Linked DNA regions of Homo sapiens. The protein of the gene in region 4 purifies or fractionates together with the protein of the main gene of each other region. This does not show direct contact. Each region holds a gene or a part of one and is shown on either strand. Other genes may lie near its edges. The genes, in order: ZNG1C, CDH3, DPM1, ELK1, PPP6C, PADI4 and TMEM33.

Evidence for each region.
Region 1: the proteins of ELK1 (region 4) and ZNG1C purify together in Homo sapiens (co-immunoprecipitation; one large-scale study listed by IntAct). This does not show direct contact.
Region 2: the proteins of ELK1 (region 4) and CDH3 purify together in Homo sapiens (affinity purification with mass spectrometry; one large-scale study listed by BioGRID and IntAct). This does not show direct contact.
Region 3: the proteins of ELK1 (region 4) and DPM1 purify together in Homo sapiens (affinity purification with mass spectrometry; one large-scale study listed by BioGRID and IntAct). This does not show direct contact.
Region 5: the proteins of ELK1 (region 4) and PPP6C purify together in Homo sapiens (affinity purification with mass spectrometry; one large-scale study listed by BioGRID and IntAct). This does not show direct contact.
Region 6: the proteins of ELK1 (region 4) and PADI4 purify together in Homo sapiens (affinity purification with western blotting; one study listed by BioGRID). This does not show direct contact.
Region 7: the proteins of ELK1 (region 4) and TMEM33 purify together in Homo sapiens (affinity purification with mass spectrometry; one large-scale study listed by BioGRID and IntAct). This does not show direct contact.

What each region holds. Positions count from the first base shown.
Region 1 is NC_000009.12:68,244,983-68,248,482, forward strand, and holds part of ZNG1C (zinc-regulated GTPase metalloprotein activator 1C), read left to right. Parts: intron 1-230; coding exon 231-317; intron 318-2,630; coding exon 2,631-2,727; intron 2,728-3,500.
Region 2 is NC_000016.10:68,697,310-68,700,792, forward strand, and holds the end of CDH3 (cadherin-3 isoform 1 preproprotein), read left to right. Parts: intron 1-783; coding exon of another isoform or gene 784-858; exon of another isoform or gene 859-881; coding exon 882-1,091; 3' UTR 1,092-2,983; downstream 2,984-3,483. UniProt on the Homo sapiens protein: Cadherins are calcium-dependent cell adhesion proteins. They preferentially interact with themselves in a homophilic manner in connecting cells; cadherins may thus contribute to the sorting of heterogeneous cell types.
Region 3 is NC_000020.11:50,941,533-50,945,032, reverse strand, and holds part of DPM1 (dolichol-phosphate mannosyltransferase subunit 1), read left to right. Parts: exon of another isoform or gene 1-676; intron 677-2,906; coding exon 2,907-3,002; intron 3,003-3,500. UniProt on the Homo sapiens protein: Transfers mannose from GDP-mannose to dolichol monophosphate to form dolichol phosphate mannose (Dol-P-Man) which is the mannosyl donor in pathways leading to N-glycosylation, glycosyl phosphatidylinositol membrane anchoring, and O-mannosylation of proteins; catalytic subunit of the dolichol-phosphate mannose (DPM) synthase complex.
Region 4 is NC_000023.11:47,637,793-47,640,563, reverse strand, and holds part of ELK1 (ETS domain-containing protein Elk-1), read left to right. Parts: intron 1-1,225; coding exon 1,226-1,669; intron 1,670-2,381; coding exon 2,382-2,771. UniProt on the Homo sapiens protein: Transcription factor that binds to purine-rich DNA sequences. Forms a ternary complex with SRF and the ETS and SRF motifs of the serum response element (SRE) on the promoter region of immediate early genes such as FOS and IER2.
Region 5 is NC_000009.12:125,169,304-125,172,803, forward strand, and holds part of PPP6C (serine/threonine-protein phosphatase 6 catalytic subunit), read right to left. Parts: intron 2,714-3,500; exon of another isoform or gene 2,645-2,713; coding exon of another isoform or gene 2,606-2,644; intron 1,878-2,605; coding exon 1,782-1,877; intron 1-1,781.
Region 6 is NC_000001.11:17,362,351-17,364,504, forward strand, and holds the end of PADI4 (protein-arginine deiminase type-4), read left to right. Parts: intron 1-1,171; coding exon 1,172-1,405; 3' UTR 1,406-1,654; downstream 1,655-2,154. UniProt on the Homo sapiens protein: Catalyzes the citrullination/deimination of arginine residues of proteins such as histones, thereby playing a key role in histone code and regulation of stem cell maintenance.
Region 7 is NC_000004.12:41,945,429-41,948,928, forward strand, and holds part of TMEM33 (transmembrane protein 33), read left to right. Parts: intron 1-3,500. UniProt on the Homo sapiens protein: Acts as a regulator of the tubular endoplasmic reticulum (ER) network by modulating intracellular calcium homeostasis. Mechanistically, stimulates PKD2 calcium-dependent activity. Suppresses the RTN3/4-induced formation of the ER tubules.

The DNA.
Region 1 (3,500 bases), on a different chromosome or scaffold from region 4:
TTTCAACTTGTAGGAGTGTTTGTAAATATTTATAAAATTTTATGTCTACATAAAGTATTTTGCAACAGGTTTCAAAGGATGCTTTAATCTTATCCTCTAGGATATTCTATACTAAAATAATATATGAAAAATAGCATGCAAATTCTCAAAAACGTTAGGATTCTTTATATGTTTTTTGTATCTTTAAAATTATTTTGAATTTTTTTATTTACAAAAAATATGTTTTATAGGTGCTGGGAAGACAACACTTCTGAACTATATTTTGACAGAGCAACATAGTAAAAGAGTAGCGGTCATTTTAAATGAATCTGGGGAAGGTAAGTAAAGTTCAATAAATGTCATGTTGCAAGATTTTGTGTGACTGTTTATTCCTCTGGTGAATTGATATTCCATATTTAAAAATGAAAATGCAAGGTATTGTATTGATGTGGATAGCTTTAGAAAAATTAGATTAATTTCTGTTAAGATTTATATGGGTTGAGATACTGAAATTAGTTTTAATAAAATTTTATTTTGTATAACTTTGGAATTCTTATTAACAGAATTAAACTACATTTTTACATGAAATAAATGACTCCAGAAGTAAAAATCTAGACATATGAAAAAACGTTTATTTTTTATTTTATTTTATTTTTTTTGAGATGGAGTCTCTCTCTTGCCAGGCTGGAGTGCAGTGGTGCAATCTCAGCTCACTGCCACCTCTGTCTCCCGGGTTAAAGTGATTCTCCTGCCTCAGCCTCCCGAGTAGCTGGGACTACAGGCATGCGCCACCATGCCCAGATAATTTTTGTATTTTTAGTAGAGACAGGGTTTCACCATGTTGGCCAGGATGGTCTTGAGCTCCTGGCCTTATGATCCACCCGCCTCGGCCTCCCAAAGTTGCTGGGATTACAGGCGTGAGGCACCATGCCTGGCCAAAAAATGTCTTTTTTAGGAATTAGAAAGGCAGTTTTGTATGGACTCTATTGCAACTCATGAAAAATATTTGAAAATGCTTCTGTTATTAGTTAACTTTGTTTAATGTTTATTATCTGCAATGCAGTTAAAACTCAATATTTTAAAAAGAAAGTAAACATATGGTCTTTATCCTCATGTATTTTATCTGTGAAAATAAGTGTGCTTAACTTCTCAACTCAAATATTAAACTGTAGTAAAAAAAAATAGCTCTAGACACAATACTTCTGTTATCTTTATAGGAGTTTTTCTTCATAAGTATGAATTGTAATCAAAGCTCACTTCTAGCCAAAAAACAATATCTATTAGACGATTTCTTTTAAAATGTACTATTTTTTTCAGTTGTAAAAAGTAAAAGAGCTAGGTTTTATGAACAGGATGGGAAGCCAGTTATATTCCAGTTATATTCGATTTCTGATTTTAATAAACTAAAGAGAAAAGTGCTTTTTAGGCAAAAATCCTGAGATTTCTAATAACAGACTGTTTTTTTCATCATCTTATTAAATAACCTATTGCACACTGATTACATTTATTCTTACTATTTTCTTTATTTTTTCCTGGATCATTTTCACAATTTTATTTTTCACAGCATTCTCAATACTTTTCTTCATGTTTCATTAATGTTCTGTATATAGTCCGAATTCTGTAGCAACCTCTTTAGAAGCTCTTTATTAATACCTAGCTGAAATATAAAAAATATGTAAGTGTAAAACTACTCGATTTTATGGGAGCTCATTTGCTTAGTGGACTTTTAGAACTTCACCGTTTGGTATATTTCTTTATTAGAGGAAAAGTAAAACATTTAAAATAATTCTTATAGATAACAAGCATTTCAAATATAGTTTATTCTTTCTTAAGTAAGTATTGCTAGGAAAATATGTGAATTTGACTAAAAGTTTAGGTTTTTTTTTTTTGAGATGGAGTCTCGCTGTGTTGCCCAGGCTGGAGTGCAGTGGCACAGTCTCGGGTCACTGCAACCTCCGCCTCCCGGGTTCACGCCATTCTCCTGCCTCAGCCGCCTGAGTAGCTGGGACTACAGGCGCCCGCTACCACACCTGGCTAATTTTTTGTAATTTTAGTAGAGATGAGGTTTCATTGTGTTAGCGAGGGTGGTCTCGATCTCCTGACCTCGTTATCCGCCCGCCTTGGCCTCCCTATAAGTTTAATTTTTAAATGAGCACATGGTACACTGGCCAAAAACCTTCCTCAGGATGAACTAGGGTTTTTACTCATTGGGAATATTCAGCAGTTTGTCTAACAGAAACAATTTAGAAGAAGAATGAAAAGAAAAAGATAAGGCAGTCTCTTAAGAGGTTGAAGGGCATACAGAATCCAGTATATAAAACATACTAGTCGATTTAGAAAGTTTACCCTGGACAAGAAAAAAATGCCTTCATTAAGAAATGGGGGTGGCCAAGTAAGAGGCCTAAGGAGGAAGTAGGTATGTTTATCAGTTTAGGATGTGTCTTTTTCAGGGCTTAAGACATCTTAAATAAAAGCTAAAATAATGTAGTGTACTGTAATTTAGGTATCAAGGCTGCATGAATAAAGTGAAAGAATATAAGTTATAAAATGCAGTTTCTGCTTTAAGATCTCCATTATTGAGTTATCCTCATCTTTGTTTTTTGTTGGCTAATGGACATAAGCTAAAGAGTGCTGTTTGTTATTTATTCTAGGAAGTGCGCTGGAGAAATCCTTAGCTGTCAGCCAAGGTGGAGAGCTCTATGAAGAGTGGCTGGAACTTAGAAACGGTTGCCTCTGCTGTTCAGTGAAGTGAGGAATGTGTTTACTGTGTACATGGTTTACTAGAAATGTTTATTGATTATATTTCCAGCTTTAATTTTCTTGAGTAATTTAACTGAATTTACACAGTTTGCTTCATTGTATTTTCAAACAAATAGAAAATAAACTTATTAGGAAGCATTTTCTTAAAGTGTTTCTTGCTGTCTTTTCTATCTGCTCTAATGTTTTGGTCCTTTTATTGAGTTTTTATTGCTTTTGATGTCAGGGCTTATTTAATCTCTAGTGCATGAAAGTCTCATATGTAAAAAATGATTATTCTGAATTTAATCTGTCATTGGTCATACTTCTAAGTGTTCAACCTTATAAAAAATAAATGACTATCAAAAAAGAAAAACCTTACATTATGTTCTAGTAGTTAAGTTTCCAAGGACAGTGATCACTAGTCTACCATAGACCCTAGAAGAGTTACCCAACACATAGTAGCACTCAAATATTTGTTGAATGAATTATAAAAATGACTACTTGTATTGTTAATTTTGTGTATTCTAGTGAATTAAATCTCTTCGGCATCATTTACTCCCTTAGGTATTTGACTTTGTGTCAAATGTTTTGGCAAGGATAAAATTATAACAGACTTTCTTGAACAACCAAAATGTAATCTATTAAGGATTTTCCTTCACTTTTGATAAAATAAGAAAAAAGGAATTTAAAACCTTGCATCCTAATGTAAAATAGAATTATATGGTGTTTAATATCAGTGTCCCTTTAGCTATTATATTAAACTACTATAGTTAATAAATTTT
Region 2 (3,483 bases), on a different chromosome or scaffold from region 4:
GGAGATTCCATCTTTAAAAAAAAAAAAATTAGGAATGATTTATTCATTTATTCAACACATATAGCAGTTGAATACTCTGGAGCCAGACTACCTGGGTTTGGATTATAGATCCCAGGTGATTGCACCTGGGGGGCAAAGTTTGGAGCCTCTGCTGTAGAAGACTTCAAGGATTGAACGAGCAGGCAGCTAGGACAGTGCCAGCACAGTGGTTCCCGACCCTGCCTGCGTGTTGGAATCACCTGGGCACCTTCAGAAACCACTGATGCCTCAGCTCACCTCCAAAGATTGTGATATAATTGAACTGGGTGTGGCCTGGGCTTCAGAATTTATAAAAGATTCTCCAGATAATTTAAGTTTCGGAACTACTGACCTAGCATGTAGCGCTTATTAGATAATGATAGCTATTGTTGCGAGGTGCTATTCTAATAACTGCTTTACAGGTATTTACTCATTTACTCATTCATCTGTTCCTTTAAAACTATACGGAGGCACATGTCCTCAGTACCTCCCGAGGCTGTGTCACAGGCATGCATCCTTTAAAAAAGGAAGAAAAAAACTATTGTCATTTTACAGACAAGGAAACAGGCATAGAGTGGTTAAGGGACTCGCCCAAGGCCACAAAGCTAGTGTGTGGTGTGAGTTCTGGCCCGGGCTGTCTGATTTCAGTCCTTGCCCTTACCCCCTGGCCTGTGTTGCACTGAGCACTTGCTGTCTGCTGGTCCCTGAGTGAATGAATTCTGCATGAATAACGCATTCTTTCATTTCTACCTCCAAAACCTTTAGGGGAGGGGAGAGAGGGGCTCACAGAGAGGAAATGGAGGCTTGCAGCTGGCAAGAGGCAGGACCCGCCGCTCCTAACTACCTGTTCTCTGTTGCCGCAGAACCTGAAGGCGGCTAACACAGACCCCACAGCCCCGCCCTACGACACCCTCTTGGTGTTCGACTATGAGGGCAGCGGCTCCGACGCCGCGTCCCTGAGCTCCCTCACCTCCTCCGCCTCCGACCAAGACCAAGATTACGATTATCTGAACGAGTGGGGCAGCCGCTTCAAGAAGCTGGCAGACATGTACGGTGGCGGGGAGGACGACTAGGCGGCCTGCCTGCAGGGCTGGGGACCAAACGTCAGGCCACAGAGCATCTCCAAGGGGTCTCAGTTCCCCCTTCAGCTGAGGACTTCGGAGCTTGTCAGGAAGTGGCCGTAGCAACTTGGCGGAGACAGGCTATGAGTCTGACGTTAGAGTGGTGGCTTCCTTAGCCTTTCAGGATGGAGGAATGTGGGCAGTTTGACTTCAGCACTGAAAACCTCTCCACCTGGGCCAGGGTTGCCTCAGAGGCCAAGTTTCCAGAAGCCTCTTACCTGCCGTAAAATGCTCAACCCTGTGTCCTGGGCCTGGGCCTGCTGTGACTGACCTACAGTGGACTTTCTCTCTGGAATGGAACCTTCTTAGGCCTCCTGGTGCAACTTAATTTTTTTTTTTAATGCTATCTTCAAAACGTTAGAGAAAGTTCTTCAAAAGTGCAGCCCAGAGCTGCTGGGCCCACTGGCCGTCCTGCATTTCTGGTTTCCAGACCCCAATGCCTCCCATTCGGATGGATCTCTGCGTTTTTATACTGAGTGTGCCTAGGTTGCCCCTTATTTTTTATTTTCCCTGTTGCGTTGCTATAGATGAAGGGTGAGGACAATCGTGTATATGTACTAGAACTTTTTTATTAAAGAAACTTTTCCCAGAGGTGCCTGGGGAGTGAACTGTTTTCTAAATAGAAGGTTTATTGGCATCTAACTCACATACCATACCATTCACTTGTTTAACGTTTACAATTCAATGGTTTTTAGAATTTTCAGAGTTCTGCAAAAAGAGTGGGCTCTGTTTACCCTGCTGGCTTCACCCAAGCTTCCTCTCAATGGCAGGGGATACTCAGGGTCAGCTTCCATGCCTAAGTGGGCTCAGGGAGGGGAGACTTGCCCTCCTTTGCAAAGTCAGTTGCTCCATGAGAGAGAACCATTAACCTCTTACCCCAAGGCTGAGCCCCTCCACAGCCCCAGCAAGGTCTCTTCTGGAACAGCGGCTGCCCTCCCTGCAGGACAGTGTGTGACGACTTCCTCTTCTATGCTGGAGGGGTCCCTGTTGAAAGGCAGGGGTTGGGGAACAGCCAGCTCTGCTACTTGCTAGCACATTTTTTTTTTTTTTTTTGAGACGGAGTCTCGTTCTGTCGCCCAGGCTGGAGTGCAGTGGTGTGATCTTGGCTCACTGCAAGCTCTGCCTCCTGGGTTCACGCCATTCTCCTGCCTCAGCCTCCCGAGTAGCTGGGACTACAGGTGCCTGCCACTATGCCCAGCTAATTTTTTTTGAGTGTGTGTGTTTTTTTAGTAGAGACGGGGTTTCACTGTGTTAGCCAGGATGTCTCGATCTCCTGACCTCGTGATCCGCCCACGTCGGCCTCCCAAAGTGCTAGGATTACAGGCTTGAGCCACCGCGCCCAGCGCTGGCACATCATTTAACCTCCAGTTGCCTCAGATTTTACATTTACAAAATGGGGAGTTTTTGTGGAGATTAAGTGAATTAATATCTGGCACATGGTCCATGCAATCTGTTAGTTGGTAACAGCTACCATTTATTCAGTACTTTTAAAGGCCAGACAGGACTTCGATTATTTCCTCTAAATCCTCACAATCACCCTCTGAGGGGACTTTCTCCTTTAAAGAATGGCCACATTGTATTTGTTTTTTTAAATGACATCTGGTCATCATCGAAATCAAGCAAAACAAAATTAAGAGAACCTACCCAAGATGTCAGTGAAATTGGAACATTCCTGACAATACCAGGGCATAAATGCAGGAATCAGGAATAGGCAGCAGTGATAGAACAATTCTGTTTGTGCCCTTGTTAACGTGAAGTTCAAAGTCATCTTTGCAATTAGCCAAAAGAATCTGAAGTGAAGCTGAGGAAATTGCTGATGTTGAAATAAACATTTCCTTCCATGAGGATGACTAATTCTGTAAAGCGTCTCTGCTCAAAGCACAGACCCTGAACCGGAGTTATCGGTGCCACCTGCTGAATCGGAACCTCTAGGCAGGGCCCTGCTGTGGGTTGACAAGCCCTCCGTGGGATGCTCCTGCACACTCAGGTTTGCTGCCAAGACTCTGAAGGATGAGGCCAAGGAGCCTGAAGCCTCAGACTTTGGATGGAGAAACCAAAAGGAAATGAAGTTGGGGCTGGGCACCATGGCTCACGCCTGTAATTCCAACACTTTAAGAGGCTGAGGTGGGTGGATCACTTGAGGTCAGGGGTTCGAGACCAGCCTGGCCTGATCCGCCCGCCTCGGCCTCCCAAAGTGCAGAGTTATAGGCGTGAGCCACCGTGCCCGGCCTACACACACATTTTTGTACTAAAAATACAAAAATTAGCTGGGTGTGGCGCCTATAATCCCAGCTACTTGGGAAACTGAGGCACAAGAATCTCATGAATCCGGGAGGTGGAGGTT
Region 3 (3,500 bases), on a different chromosome or scaffold from region 4:
TGTAGATGCTAAAGGAGATATTATTTACTACCATTTTCTAGTTAAAACTTTAAGAATAGAAGGAAACCTCTTAAGCATAATAAAAATAACCCAGTCCTAATACAAATACCACACCAAATAGTGAAATGCTGAATCATTTCCAATACATGCATTAATACAGGCATGCTAGCTATCATTAAACATGGAAATGTTAATACAGTAAGATAAGAATTTAGTTAAATGTTAGTAAAATATACACAGTTATATTTGTTTGTAGGCAATATAATTAAATTCTTAGCCCAAAAGACCACAAAACCTCTGTGAATAAGATTTTGGAAGCTGTTCTGAGTTTAAGCTAGATACATAAAAACAGAATCAGATTATTGTCCCTCCAGTTCAGGGAGTTCAGGGAGTTCCCACTAACATCTAGGGAAAAATCCAAGTTCCTTCCCTTGTCCCTCAAGCCCCTATGTGTTTGTTGGCCCCTGCCTCCCTTTCTGACCTCTGCCTTGTGCTCCTTCCTTTTTGCTTTCCATGCCATAGCATGCTTCTGAGTTCACAGAGTTCCATTTTCCTTTGCCTGAAATGCTGTTTCCATGCTCCTTGATGACCATCTGCTGCTCATCCTTCAATCTCTGCGTAAAGTCACCTTAGACCTTTTTTGGTTATATCTCCAGTATACAAAAGCCTCTTTAACCTGTAGAGTAGAAAATGGGCAAAAAGATACAAACAGACCATCTATAGAAGAAATCCAAATGGCTAATAAAAGAAGACGTTCTTCCTGGGATGTAGTCAAGGAAATAAACACAAAATAACTGTGTGTGACCATTTTATTATCCATTAGTTTAACAAAGTTAAAAACTTTTAGAGCAGTAGTAATATCCAGTACCAATAAGATGGTAAAAAATGGACACACAAATATTGCTGAAGGAAGTATAAGTTGCTATAACCCTTTTGGAAAATATGTGTTCAAATTTGGGAAAATATGTGTTAGAATTAAAAATACTCAGGCTTGGCCGGGCGCAGTGGCTCACGCCTGTAATCCCAGCACTTTGGGGGGCCGAGGCGGGCGGATCACGAGGTCAGGAGATCGAGACCATCCTGGTGAACACGGTGAAACCCTGTCTCTACTAAAAATACAAAAAAATTAGCCAGGCATGGTGGTGTGCACCTGTAGTCCCAGCTACTCGGGAGGCTGAGGCAGGAGAATGGCATGAACCTGGGAGGCGGAGCTTGCAGTGAGCCAAGATCGCGCCACTGCACTCCAGCCTGGGCGACAGAGCGAGACTCCATCTCAAAAAAAAAAAAAAAAATACTCAGGCTTCATTTGGGCAATTCCAGTATATTCCATTTTGGGGAGTCTAAGCAGTAATACATTTATAAAAACGTTTATTGTGGCCAGGCACAGTGGCTCATGCCTGTAATCCCACACTTTGGGAGGCTGAGGCGGGCGGATCATGAGGTCAAGAGATTGAGAGCATCCTGGCCAACATGGTGAAACCCCGTCCCTACTAGAAATACAAAAAATTAGCCGGGCATGATGGCACTCGCCTGTAGTCCTAGCTACTTGGGAGGCTGAGGCAGGAGAATCACTTGAACCCGGGAGGTGGAGGTTGCAGTGAGCCGAGATGGCGCCATTGCACTCCACCCTGGCAACAGAGCGAGACTCCATCTCAAAAAAAAACAAAACAAAACAAAAAAAGTTTATTGTAGCACTGTTTATTGTGGTTGAGAGGGTAGGGCACCATGGAAACAACCACAGAGGTGTGTGAGTTGAATATTCTATGAAGTAGTTTTGCAATTATTAAAAAGAATGGGAAAGAGCTCTCTTGACCTGTAGGGATGTCTATGATTCCATGATTTGCATTGTTTTTGTTTTGAGATGGAATCTCACTCTGTCATGCAGGCTGGAGTGCAGTGGCGCAGTCTCAGTCACTGCAACCTCCACGTCCCGGGTTCAAGCAGTTCTCCTGCCTCAGCCTCCAGAGGAGCTGGGAATACAGGCACGTGCCACTACACCTGGCTAATTTTTGTATTTTTAGTAGAGACAGTTTCACTGTGTTGGCCAGGCTAGTCACAAACTCCTGACCTCAAGTGATCCACCTGCCTAGGCCTCCCAAAGTGCTGGGATTACAGGCGTGTGCCACCACATCTGACCCCATGATATGTATTGTTAACTGACAGAAACCAGGTCACAAAATGTACTTTTTTTGCATCCCAATTTTGTAAATGCAACCAAAAATCCTAGGGGTGTATGTTTGTCTTTATCTTTCTCTAGGCAAAGAAAAGTGTGGCAGGACATCAGGCTGTTTTTAGTATTATTTGCTTCAAAGAAGGCAAGAACAGAATGGAAGGGTATTGGGAAAATTAATTATTTTAATTTGAGAGACAAGGTCTTCCATTGTCACCCAGGCTGGAGTACAGTGGCACAATCACAGATCACTGCAGCCTGAACCTCCCTGGCTCAAGCCATCCTCCCATTGCAGCCTCCCAAATAGCTGAGACTAAAGGCATGTGCCACTGTGCCCGACTAATTTTTTTTTTTTTTTTGAGATGGAGTCTCACTCTTGTTGCCCAGGCTAGAGTGCAGTGGCGTGATCTCAGCTCACTGCAACCTGCCTCCTGGGTTCAAGTGATTCTCTGCCTCAGCCTCCTGAGTAGCTGGGATTACAGGCACCCGCCACCGCGCCAGGCTAATTTTTATATTTTTAGTAGAGATGGGGTTCCACCATCTTGGCCAGGCTGGTCTTGAACTCCTGGCCTCGTGATCCACCCGCCTCGGCCTCCCAAAGTGCTAGGATTGCAGGCGTGAGCCACTGCACCCAGCCTGTGTCGACTTCTCTTAAAAGTTTTGTTTGTGTAGCTCATGAAAATGACTGTTGAAAGCTCAGTGGCTTTTTCTAATTGACAGCTAATTTATTCTACAGGAAGCAAAAGGAGGGTAATTTTGATATTGTCTCTGGAACTCGCTACAAAGGAAATGGAGGTGTATATGGCTGGGATTTGAAAAGAAAAATAATCAGGTAGGTACATGTGTTACAACTTCTTTATTAGTATAACTACTGGAAATGTATTCATAGCAAGTATTTGGATTAGCTATCATGCTGCCCGGGATTTGTGGGATCAGGTTATAACTTCCAGTAAATACTCCCAGATAGTTTCTTACAGTTTTTCCTGTGATTAGAGCCTGGATGTTTTTTATTAAGGAAAAATCAGCATAAACCTTTGGACCTTTGGTAGAAATGGTCTCATTCAGCAAAAGTTACTGTACTGGACCTTCAGTTTTAATTTATGTGACCTGTTCTATACTTTTGGTCTAAATATGTAGGGTTTCTCCCCATAATTATAGTGTAATTTTAATTAAGATTGATTTCAGACAGACCTGGGTTAAAGTCTTAACTCACTGCAACCTCTGCCTCCCGGGCTCAAGCAATTCTCCTGTCTCAGCCTCCCGAGTAGCTGGGACTGTGGACCTGCACCACCATGCCTGGCTAATTTTTGTTTCATAGAGATGGGGTTTC
Region 4 (2,771 bases):
TTAAAATTTCCCCCATCCTGCCCTCTCAGACCCCCAGGCCACTGCTGGGTTTCTCCTCCCCCCAATATTTATACCAGTTATTTCATTTTCTTAATCCTTCTACTGAAATTTCCCAAACAATATTCATGAATATCCCTTTTTATTCCTCTTCCGAGAAACACAGGCCCACCCTGTGACATATCTGACCAGCACTAAGACTTCCACAGAATGCCCTAGTGCCTCCACACTCCCAGAACTGCCCTGGTCATATGCTGCACACCCTTCATAGTTTATGGCATTTATTCCATTTTCATATTTTATTCCTTGAGCTCAACCCTCCAGAACAATATTAGTAATGAGGCTATCTCACTCTGCCCTCTGGGAACACTAGGTCATCTCTGAGACCCACCAGACCTGAAAAACCCCAAACATGCTCTGTGACCCAGCAAAGCCAGCCTTGATATAGGCCCCCTCCCAATATTTATACCAGTATTTTTAATATTCTTGTCTAATTGCTGTTAGTTACTTCATTTTCTTACCATTTTAGCTTCAACCTCCACAGTGGTATTAATAATGAGGCCTCCTCACCCTCTCCTCTGCAGTGACCTTGCCCTGTTCCACTTCTGTATCATTAGCTTCAAATAATCCTCTGTATTAATAATTCATCACCCCATCCATCTACATTAATTTACTTTCTTCCAACATTTATATCAGTTACTTCATTTTCTTGTCTTATTGCATTTGCTAGTCTCCAAAACTGTGTCCTGACAGTCACCCACAAGGCCTGGCCCTGTGAACCTCTGGTTCTTGGAGCCAGGAAGAAGACCTGCTCCCACACCTACTGCCCTTCATGGGCCCCATTGTGAAGAGGAGCTACAGTGTGGAGGGAGTGGGAAAATCAGATAGACGGACCTGGAGAGTGACAAAGGGAGGCTTGGAAAGGGGTGGATGGGAAGGGGCTTAAAGAAAAAATTATTGTGGAGAGAAGAGAGAAAGGGGAGGAACTGGGGAGGGATATAGATAAGGGGAATCTGGCGGGAGAGGAAAGAGGTAGAAACCAATGGGAGAGGAAATGGGCTGAGAGAGAAACTTACAGAGGAGGGACGGGAAAGCCGGAGAGGAGCAAGTGGGAAGAAAGCCACTAGGAGAAGAGAAATGCCACTCCACCCCCCTCCTCCCCCCTGACACCCTGCCTCCAGCCTGCCCCTTTCCTCTAAGGCCCTCTGTTCCTCTCCTCCCTTCCTAGAACATCATCCGCAAGGTGAGCGGCCAGAAGTTCGTCTACAAGTTTGTGTCCTACCCTGAGGTCGCAGGGTGCTCCACTGAGGACTGCCCGCCCCAGCCAGAGGTGTCTGTTACCTCCACCATGCCAAATGTGGCCCCTGCTGCTATACATGCCGCCCCAGGGGACACTGTCTCTGGAAAGCCAGGCACACCCAAGGGTGCAGGAATGGCAGGCCCAGGCGGTTTGGCACGCAGCAGCCGGAACGAGTACATGCGCTCGGGCCTCTATTCCACCTTCACCATCCAGTCTCTGCAGCCGCAGCCACCCCCTCATCCTCGGCCTGCTGTGGTGCTCCCCAGTGCAGCTCCTGCAGGGGCAGCAGCGCCCCCCTCGGGGAGCAGGAGCACCAGTCCAAGCCCCTTGGAGGCCTGTCTGGAGGCTGAAGAGGCCGGCTTGCCTCTGCAGGTAAGGACTGGAATATAGAAATTCAGTAAGAGGAGGCAGTAAAGAGGAGGGATGTGTAATCCCCGGATGACGAGGGAGGCTGGTAGAAGAGACATAGCTGTCCCGTTAAAGGAGATAATGGTGGAAGGAAGACATCCTCTTAGAAGGAGGGGTGGGGCAGAGAGCTACACAAATCCTGAGACAGAAAGGGGAGAATACTGTGCTACAGTTAGTAGCTGCCGAACATGTAGGTGCCTGGAATATGTTTAATGCACTGGTTCTCGCACTCTAGTGCTCATCAGAATCACCTGTAGGTCTTGTTAAACCACAGATTGCCAGGCACACCCCCAGAGTTTCTGAATTTGTGGGGCTGGGGAGGGGCCCAATAATTTGCATTTTTAACTTGTTACCAAATGAGGCAGATATTGCTGGTCCAGAGGAAGGTAAATTTTTGAGAACCACTGTTTTAATGAATGAGGATGGTATCCCTCAGATTCCTACCCGCTTCAGGTTGTCTCACCCCAAGTCCCCTGTCCCATAGGAGGACCTGCCCCAGAGGAAGCCCTACTTCCTTGACGAAGTCCTATGTCCTGTTGGAGGACTTGCTCTGATGTGCAGTCATGCCCTGAGTACCAAGTGCCACCTTCCCGGGGAAATCACTGGGTGGCCCACAGGAGAATCCTGTGGTCCCAACAATCCTTACACACCCTCTTTGTGCCTGCTCCTCTACCAGGTCATCCTGACCCCGCCCGAGGCCCCAAACCTGAAATCGGAAGAGCTTAATGTGGAGCCGGGTTTGGGCCGGGCTTTGCCCCCAGAAGTGAAAGTAGAAGGGCCCAAGGAAGAGTTGGAAGTTGCGGGGGAGAGAGGGTTTGTGCCAGAAACCACCAAGGCCGAGCCAGAAGTCCCTCCACAGGAGGGCGTGCCAGCCCGGCTGCCCGCGGTTGTTATGGACACCGCAGGGCAGGCGGGCGGCCATGCGGCTTCCAGCCCTGAGATCTCCCAGCCGCAGAAGGGCCGGAAGCCCCGGGACCTAGAGCTTCCACTCAGCCCGAGCCTGCTAGGTGGGCCGGGACCCGAACGGACCCCAGGATCGGGAAGTGGCTCCGGCCTCCAGGCTCCG
Region 5 (3,500 bases), on a different chromosome or scaffold from region 4:
TAACCTCAAAACACAAGATATATGTTAGCAAGAACTGCACATTTGACTGAAGGTATATATAATACAAAAGTTCAATTTTATGCTTCCAATTTTAGTAGTTCGAGGTTGGTCTCTAACTTTCTGACCTTTGATCATGGCTGTACTTCACATCTTAAAAAGTCTACAACTGGGGGAAACACTACACTGGGGGAAAACATGACTTGGTTTATTCCAGTTTTCAGGAATGTGTTAAGACACTGCTTATATTAATATCCTTTATGTTAGCAAAATACAAATGTTTACTTTGAGAGAGAAGTTACATAGAAACTTCTACACTACACTGGGGGAAAACATGACTTGGTTTATTCCAGTTTTCAGGAATGTCTTAAGACACTGCTTATATTAATATCCTTTATGTTAGCAAAATACAAATGTTTGAGAGAGAAGTTACATGGAAATTTTAGGAAATCAATTCCTAAAGTCTACTCTAAAGAACTGTAATTTTAACAATCAAAGATGACATAATGGGACCTCCATCTAGGAGGTGATGACATGCAAGTGTCAGATTTTTTTATAATCTAAAAAATCCAGAAAACACCTTGAAAAACCAAAAGAAAATCAGCCTGTAAGTAAGTAGCCAAAACAAGACTTTACTCATGGAGCAGCCCCTAATCAGAGTCAATTTACACACATTTCTGCTCATTTACACAGTCATATTTAAAGCAGGGAAATTGCACAGGTGACAGTAAGTCCTGTTGGCATCCTTTAAAGACTACATTGTTTGCAATGTATTATTAAGTCTTATGGCCCCAACTACACTGTATGCATATAGCACTCTATGAGTAATCTGTTCAGCTTTCATTTCCCAGTGAAAAAATTCTACAAATATACATGAGACTAAACACTGACAACAGAATCTAAATATGAGGTATGCCCCTCCTGTTACTGCTTTGAAATTCTTTTTTTTTTTTTTAGACAGAGTCTTGCTCTGTTGCCCAGGCTGGAGTGCAGTGGTGCGGTCTCGGCTCACTGCAACCTTCACCTCCCGGGTTCAAGAGATTCTCCTGCCTCAGCCTCCTGAGTAGCTGGGATTACAGGCACGCACCACCATGCCCAGCTAATTTTTTTGTATTTTCAGTAGAGACGGGGTTTCACCATGTTGGTCAGGCTGGTCTCAAACTCCTGACCTCACGATCCACCCGCCTCAGCCACCCAAAGTGCTGGGACTACAGGTGTGAGCCACCACGCCCGGCACTGCTTTGAAATTCTTACAAACACCCAGCAGATGAAAAATTGAGCTAAATATTTTCTAGCTCATTCATCAGTGATTTGCTGTGACATCATGGACCAACAATTTTATTTTTCTGTACCTTTGCTATTCTCATTCCCACTAAAGAAATGATAAATTTTCAACAATATATGACAGGAGAACAGAAATGAACTGAATGAAAAAAGTGCCTAACACCAAAACATCTCCTGTTAATCATAGTTATTATGAGCAGTATGTGTTTGTACTTTATATCTTCTACCTACCCCCAACCCCACCATTCCACAGAAAACTAATGCTGCATTATTCACTTCACAAATGTAATTATCAACAAATTCCATCACTAATTTGACCACTGCTTTTATTCACCAAAAATGTAAACCAGGAATCATTTGTGTCACAGAGACTGAGGCAACCTAGCTTACCACCAGTTGTGTTTGTTGATGTTGTTGTTGTTTTAATTTTGCAGCACATGTGAAAACACACATGGATCATGGACAGTACAAAACTTAAAAATCTGCTCATGAAATTTTACCTGTCCATGGATATCTCCACACACTGTTACTGGTGTTGATACTGGCTGAACATTTGACTCTTCTAAGAGGAGGTCACAAACGTAGTCACATAGCCGCTATAAAAAGAGAAAATAAAAGGTAAACATTTACTACAACATTAAAACTAAAGATAAAATACCAAAAAAGAAAAATACCAGGTCTAATACTTACAAAACCCAAGTATACTTTTTGATAGGAAAGTACCCTGTGATAATTCGGGGGTTGGATTTCTGTCAGCTGTCACACAGAATTCTTAATGCAATGCAAACTACCTACAGAGACACTAAGGTTCTAGGAGACAGACAGCTTTACAAGAACTGTAAAATGATGTTTTTCACCAAACACACACACACATATACACACACACACACACACATATATATATATATATATATATATATATATATATATATGAAGAAATAATTTTAACAGTAAAAGGTTTTTGGGTTTTTTTGTTTTTTTTTTTTTTAAACGGAGTCTCACTCTGTCTCCCAGGCTGAAATGCAGTGACACGATCTCGGCTCACTTCTACCTCCATCTCCCAGATTCAAGCAATTTTCCTGCCTCAGCCTCCCAAGTAGCTGGGGTTACAGGCATGTGCCACCACACCCGGCTAATTTTTGTATTTTTAGTAGACACAGGGTTTTACCATGTTGGCCAGGCTGGTCTTGAACTCCTGACCTCAGGTGATCCACCCACCTCAGCCTCCCAAAGTGCTGGGATTACAGGCGTCAGCCACCGTGCCCAGCCAGTAAAAGATTTTTATCTGGTAATTTAAAAAATAAATTGCAAACCACACACTTACCATTTGACCCAGCAACTGTAGTCTTGGCAATAAAAACATGTTCAAAATCTGTATATAAATACTCGCAGAAGCCTAATGCATCATAGCCCAAAACTAAAAACAAATCAGATATCCTTCAATGAGTGAATGGTTAAACACATTTTGGTACATCCACACCATGTAATACTACTCAGCAATAAAAAGAAACGAATACTGCCACACAACAACCTGGATTCATCTCAAGGCATTTATGTTGAGTGAAAAAAATGAAACAACAGAAAACTGTCCCAAAAGGTTATATACTGTATAATTCCATTTATATAACCTTCTTTTTTTCCCTTTTTTTTTGAGACAGAGTCTTGGTCTGTTGCCCAGGCTGGAGTCCAGTAGCACAATTTCAGTTCACTGCAAACTGCCTCCCAGTTCAAGTGATTCCCTTGCCTCAGTCTCACAAGTACCTGGGATTACAGGCACACACCATCATGCCCAGCTAATTTTTGTATTCTTAGTAGTTTCACCATGTTGGTCAGGCTGGTCTCAAACTCCCAACCTCAGGTGATCTGCCCGCTTCGGCCTCCCAAAGTGGTGGGATTACAGGCATTGAGCCACTGCACTCGGCCGTGTTTACACATTCTTGAAATGACAAAATTAAAGAAATGGAGAACGGATTAGTTGTTGTCAGGGGTCCAGCAGTTGCAGGAAGGAAGTGGGTGTGGCTATAAAAGGGCAACATGAGGAATTCTTGTGATGATGGACCTGTTCTGTATTTTGACTATAGAGTTGGATACATGAGCCCTTACCCAATAAAACTGCAAAGAACTGAATACACACAAACACACACACACACACACACACACACACACAAACACACACACACACACACAAACACAAGTAAAACTGAAGAAATCTGAACATC
Region 6 (2,154 bases), on a different chromosome or scaffold from region 4:
CAAAAAAAAAAAAAAAAAAAAAAATTAAATAATGTCCTTTGCAGCAACCTGATGGAGCTGGAGGCATTATCCTAAGTGAACTAAAACAGAAAATCAAATACTGCATGTTCTCACGTATAGGTAGAAGCTAAACAGTGGATACACATAGACACAGAGATGGAAATAATAGGCACTGAGGACCCCCAAAATGGAGAGAATGAGAGCGAGGTGAGGGCTGGAAAATTACCTATCGGGTACGATGTTCATTGTTTGGGTAATGGATACACTAGAAGCCCAGTGCCCACCAGTAATCAATATACCCATGTAATAAATATGCATATGTACCCCCAAATCTAAATTTTTAAATTTAAAATAAATAAGAGTATGGAACTTGGAGTCTAATAGCTGTAGTCCAAGTATAGCTGGGTGGCCTTAGGCAAACAATTTTCCACGTCTGGGTCTCAGTTTTCTCATTTGTAAAGTGGGGCTATTATTTTTATTTTGTTTTAATTTTTGAGACAGAGTCTCGCTCTGTCACCCAGGCTGGAGTGTATTGGAATGATCTCGGCTCACTGAAACCTCCACTTCCTGGGTTCAAGCAATTCTCCTGCCTCAGCCTCCCAAGTAGCTGGGATTACAGGCACACCTGGCTCATTCTTGTATTTTTAGTAGAGACGGGGTTTCCCCATGTTGGCCAAGCTGGTCTCGAGCTCCTGACCTCAGGTGATCCACTCGCCTAGGCCTCCCAAAGTGCTGGGATTACAGGCATGAGCCACCACACCCAGCAATTTTTATTTTTGAGGTAGAGTCTCGCTCTGTCGCCCAAGCTGCCAGGCTGGAGTGCAGTGGCACAATCACAGCTCACTGCAGCCTTGACCTCCTGGGCTCAAGTGATCCTCCTCCCTCAGCCTCCAAAGTAGCTGGGACCACAGGCACGCACCACCATGCCAAGCTAATTTTTAAAAATACTTTTTTTAGAGATGGGGTCTCACCATGTTGCCCAGGCTGGTCTCAAACTCTTGGGCTCAAGCGATCCTCCTGCCTCAGCCTCCCAAAGTGCTGGGACTACAGGTCTGAGCCACCACCCCTGGAGGGGCTATTATTTCCAAAGGTCAGAGAAGGGTGGGGCCGCTCAGATTGCGCTGCAGGCTGCCCGCTGCTGCCTGTGACCTGAACCCTCACTTCCCTGCAGGTGAACATGCTGGTGCTAGGGAAGCACCTGGGCATCCCCAAGCCCTTCGGGCCCGTCATCAACGGCCGCTGCTGCCTGGAGGAGAAGGTGTGTTCCCTGCTGGAGCCACTGGGCCTCCAGTGCACCTTCATCAACGACTTCTTCACCTACCACATCAGGCATGGGGAGGTGCACTGCGGCACCAACGTGCGCAGAAAGCCCTTCTCCTTCAAGTGGTGGAACATGGTGCCCTGAGCCCATCTTCCCTGGCGTCCTCTCCCTCCTGGCCAGATGTCGCTGGGTCCTCTGCAGTGTGGCAAGCAAGAGCTCTTGTGAATATTGTGGCTCCCTGGGGGCGGCCAGCCCTCCCAGCAGTGGCTTGCTTTCTTCTCCTGTGATGTCCCAGTTTCCCACTCTGAAGATCCCAACATGGTCCTAGCACTGCACACTCAGTTCTGCTCTAAGAAGCTGCAATAAAGTTTTTTTAAGTCACTTTGTACATGAGGTCAAGATGTTGTTGGTATCATTCATTCATTCACTCATTTGTCATGGTTGAATTGACTATCACAAAACAAACTGAAAAGTGTTAACAGGCTGCACTGAAGGCCACGTTATTGTGTGTGTCTTTTGCTCCCAGACATGTATTTGGGCTATAAAATTTTGCATGATCCTAGTTCGTTCTGAGTTTCCCACGGGACCTTTCCAAGAAGAGGAGGAGGAGGGAGCAGGGGAGGGGTAAGCCCCGCTGAGAATCTGGGCATATCCCTCTTTAAACTCACCTACAACTGGGCATTCACCTACGTACTGATAGCGATGGATTTTTGTGGAATGAAGTAATTCATCTCCTCGGTGTTCTTTTTTATATTGCCTTTTATGGCTTCGACATAAAGACTCAGATTCCTCTGTAGAAAATAAAACTTGATGGCTTGAGATCATTAAAATTGAGACCAGATATTGGCTCAAAAGGGTCCAAGATATTCAGAGAACACCCAGGGATCCTGTTA
Region 7 (3,500 bases), on a different chromosome or scaffold from region 4:
TGCTACCCAGATGATTGCTTTATCAATTTTTAGTTTTACAAGTAATGAGACATTACAGATAAAAGCTAAAATAGCATTTGACTATATGAATTCTTGCTGCAATTTTGTCCTCTTCCCAAAGGTGTAAGGAGTTTAATATGTGTCTATGTATGTAGTCCTTTAAAAATACTTATACAAATTTGTAGAACATATATATTATGGATGTGGAGTTTTGTTTGTTAATTTGTTTAGTTCTTATTTTACATCAAAGATGTTATTCTGGCTGGGCACAGTGGCTCATGCCTGTAATCCCAGCATTTTGGGAGGCCAAAGTGGGCAGATCACTTGAGGTCAGGAGTTCAAGACCAGCCTGACCAACATAGTGAAACCCTGTCTCTGTTAAAAATACAAAAATTAGCCAGGCATGGTGGTGCACACCTGTAATCCCAGCTACTCGGGAGGCTGAGACAGGAGAATTGTTTGAATCTGGGAGGTGGAAGTTGCAGTGAGCCCATATCACGTCACTGCACTGCAGCCTGGGCAACAGAGTGAGACTCTGTCTCACCAAAAAAAAAAAAAAAAAAGAAAAGGAAAAAAAAAAGTGTTATTCTGTACCTTTTTCCCACTTGTATGTTTTCATAACCTAATTGATTTGGCATATCCAGTTCTGTTTTTTTTTTTTTTTTAGCCGTATAACATTCCAACTTATCTCCTGATCATGGAATATGTTTCCAAATTTTCAGTTTTCCAAATATTGATGCAGTAAATATTTTTTACCTGCTTATACTTAATGCCAGTGTTTTCTTTAACATAGATACCAGAATTGATTTTGCTAGTACAAGCTAGGTGCCTTTTGTGTTTAATGGACCATGCTAAATTGTTCTTTAAAATGTCTGTATTACCTGTTTTTCATAATTTTGTTAGTTTGTAACAAATGTCCTTATTGATCATATAGTTATATTTTATAATTTTAAATGTACCTTGCCTTGATTAACTAGTAAAGTTTTCATGTACTTGACAGTTACTTCTTTCTATAGCAGTCTCTTCAAACTAAGAACAGAGTTTTATAGATTTCCTTATAAATATATATCTGTTTCATTCTTTTAAGTAGTGCTTTCTTCTGAGAACTCCAGGACTGGCTGGTGTTGCTTAAGTTGTATGGTCCCAACTAGATTTGATGCAGTTGTATTTGTAAATTAACTCTAAAACCTTGACCCTAAAATTTAATAAAAGCATCCTCTTATCCTAGAAGCTGAAAGCATATAAAAGAAAAGGGTAATGTAATCTGGGACAGCAGAAAAAGGGACAACATCAACATTCTAATATTTTTTCCATCATTTATAGGTTTTTCTTTCCACCTCTTTCTTTTGTGATCCTGATCTACACTTAGAAACTTTAATTATTAATTAGTAAGAGGAACTTTTTGCTCCCTTTTGTTATTCATTTTTCTCGGGTTTTTGTGTCACTTAATCCTGCTTTTGGGTCAGGATCACAGGTTCTGTGATTTGTTTCATGTAACTAGATGAAAGTTAAAATGGTAGATACCAGGCCGAGCACGGTGGCTCACAGCCTGTAAACCCAGCACTTTGGGAAGCCAAAGCTGGCAGAGCATGAGGTCAAGAGATCGAGACCATCCTGGCCAATGTGGTGAAACCCCGTCTCTACTAAAAATACAAAAATTAGCTGGGCCTGGTGGTGTGTGCCTGTAGTCCCAGCTACTCGGGAGGCTGAGGCAGGAGAATCGCTTGAACCCTGGAGGCAGAGGTTGCAGTGAGCCGAGATCGTGCCACTGCGCTCCAGCCTGGCGACAGACCAAGACTCCCTCTCAAAAAAAAAAAAAAAGATAGATACCGAGACTAGTTTTTTTGTATGGGTATAATTGATGTCTATATCCTGAAACCTCCAGATTCTGTTTAGTAAGCAAAATAATTTCTTATGCTCCTCTTAAATCAGATTAAAATAATTTTAATGAAATTCTGAGATGCCATGCAAACTTAGACAAAAACTTCACTTTGGAACTATAGTGAATTTTTTGTTAGGAGCACCAGGTTTTGACTGCGTTGGTACATTAATTCAATTGTGCTCCTTAAATGTTTAATTTAAACATTTATTTGTACAAACTTACCATCTTAATTTTTAAGATTACTGTAAAAAAGATGAGAATTTACCAGAAATGTTTAAATAGAGAAATAATTTTGTTTGAAAAATTAAAATCAGCTTATAAAGTGGTACTTAATTCCTATTAGGAAAAGCTGTTAATGCCTTAAGTAGGTAGTTTGAATATGACCTAAACAATAAAATTAAGAACAGTCTTACATTACTGCTATTCTTAATATGCTACCCTTTCTGGTATACACACAGTCTAATATTAGGAGGCTTTATCAAGTTACATTTGTGCCAGTAATGCTTCAAGCTCTGTATTTAAAAATTGATGCATTGTCTGAGTTTATCTTACACATGCGTTGCACATGTGTGCAAAGACAGGTAAAAGGATCATTGTGGCTTTTCTTCTAATTGACTGGAGCCACCCAAATATTCATTAGTACGGAGTTTGTTACATAATAGTCCAAGCATTAGATGGTATATTTGAAGCTGTAAAAAAGATTGCGGTAATTTATGTGTTGTGATATGGGATAATCACCAAGATATAATAAGTTAAACTTAGTTGTGTAGGGTGTTCTCCATTTATATTTAGTGGGGTGTATGTGTGTAAGGACATAGACGTTTCTGTCTCAGTTTTTTGGGAATGATAAACCATCTCTGTCCTAGAGTTGTTAAACAGATTTAGTGAATTATAAAGTGAGCACTATCAATGTTAGTCATTATATACACTTGTATATATACATTTCTGGAAGGACATATTCGAGATTGTGGTATAAGTTTGAGGAAGGGGCTAACTTGGATGATGGGAAACTTGTTTTTTAAGTGAATATTTTCTATTTATATTTTCTATGTTGTGTCTCTTACATTTTCACTTTAAAAAGATAAAAATTTGTCAAATTATTAGGGAAAATGGATGTTGCATTTGTTTAGTGGTAAGTTCGTAATCGTGTAAATTTTTTTTAATGAAAATGATACAATTTAGAAGAAAAGGCTAAAAAACCTAATAAAACACATTTGGCATCTTAATATATTTCTTCCAATTTAAAAAAATACAATTGTAATAATATGTGTAGTTTTATATTCTGCTTTTTTCAGAGTTGCTATGTAATTTTCATAACCAAGATTCTAGGTAGTTGCATATTAAATCCATTAAATAACCATAATATAAGTTGTTCAATTCTACTTCCTTACAGTTCACATTAGGTTGTTGCCACATTTTGTTTGTAGTTATTTCAGTGAATGTCTTAATTCAGATAGTTTTTCTTAGGGAAGAATTCCAGACCTGGTATTTCATAAACATATATATAATTCTTGGGATATTGTAATTGTGTTTTTTAACCAAGAACAATAATTAGTATAGGCTGTTTAGATTTACTGATGAGCCAGTGTAATTTTTTTGGTGGAGGGGAGTGTTTGTT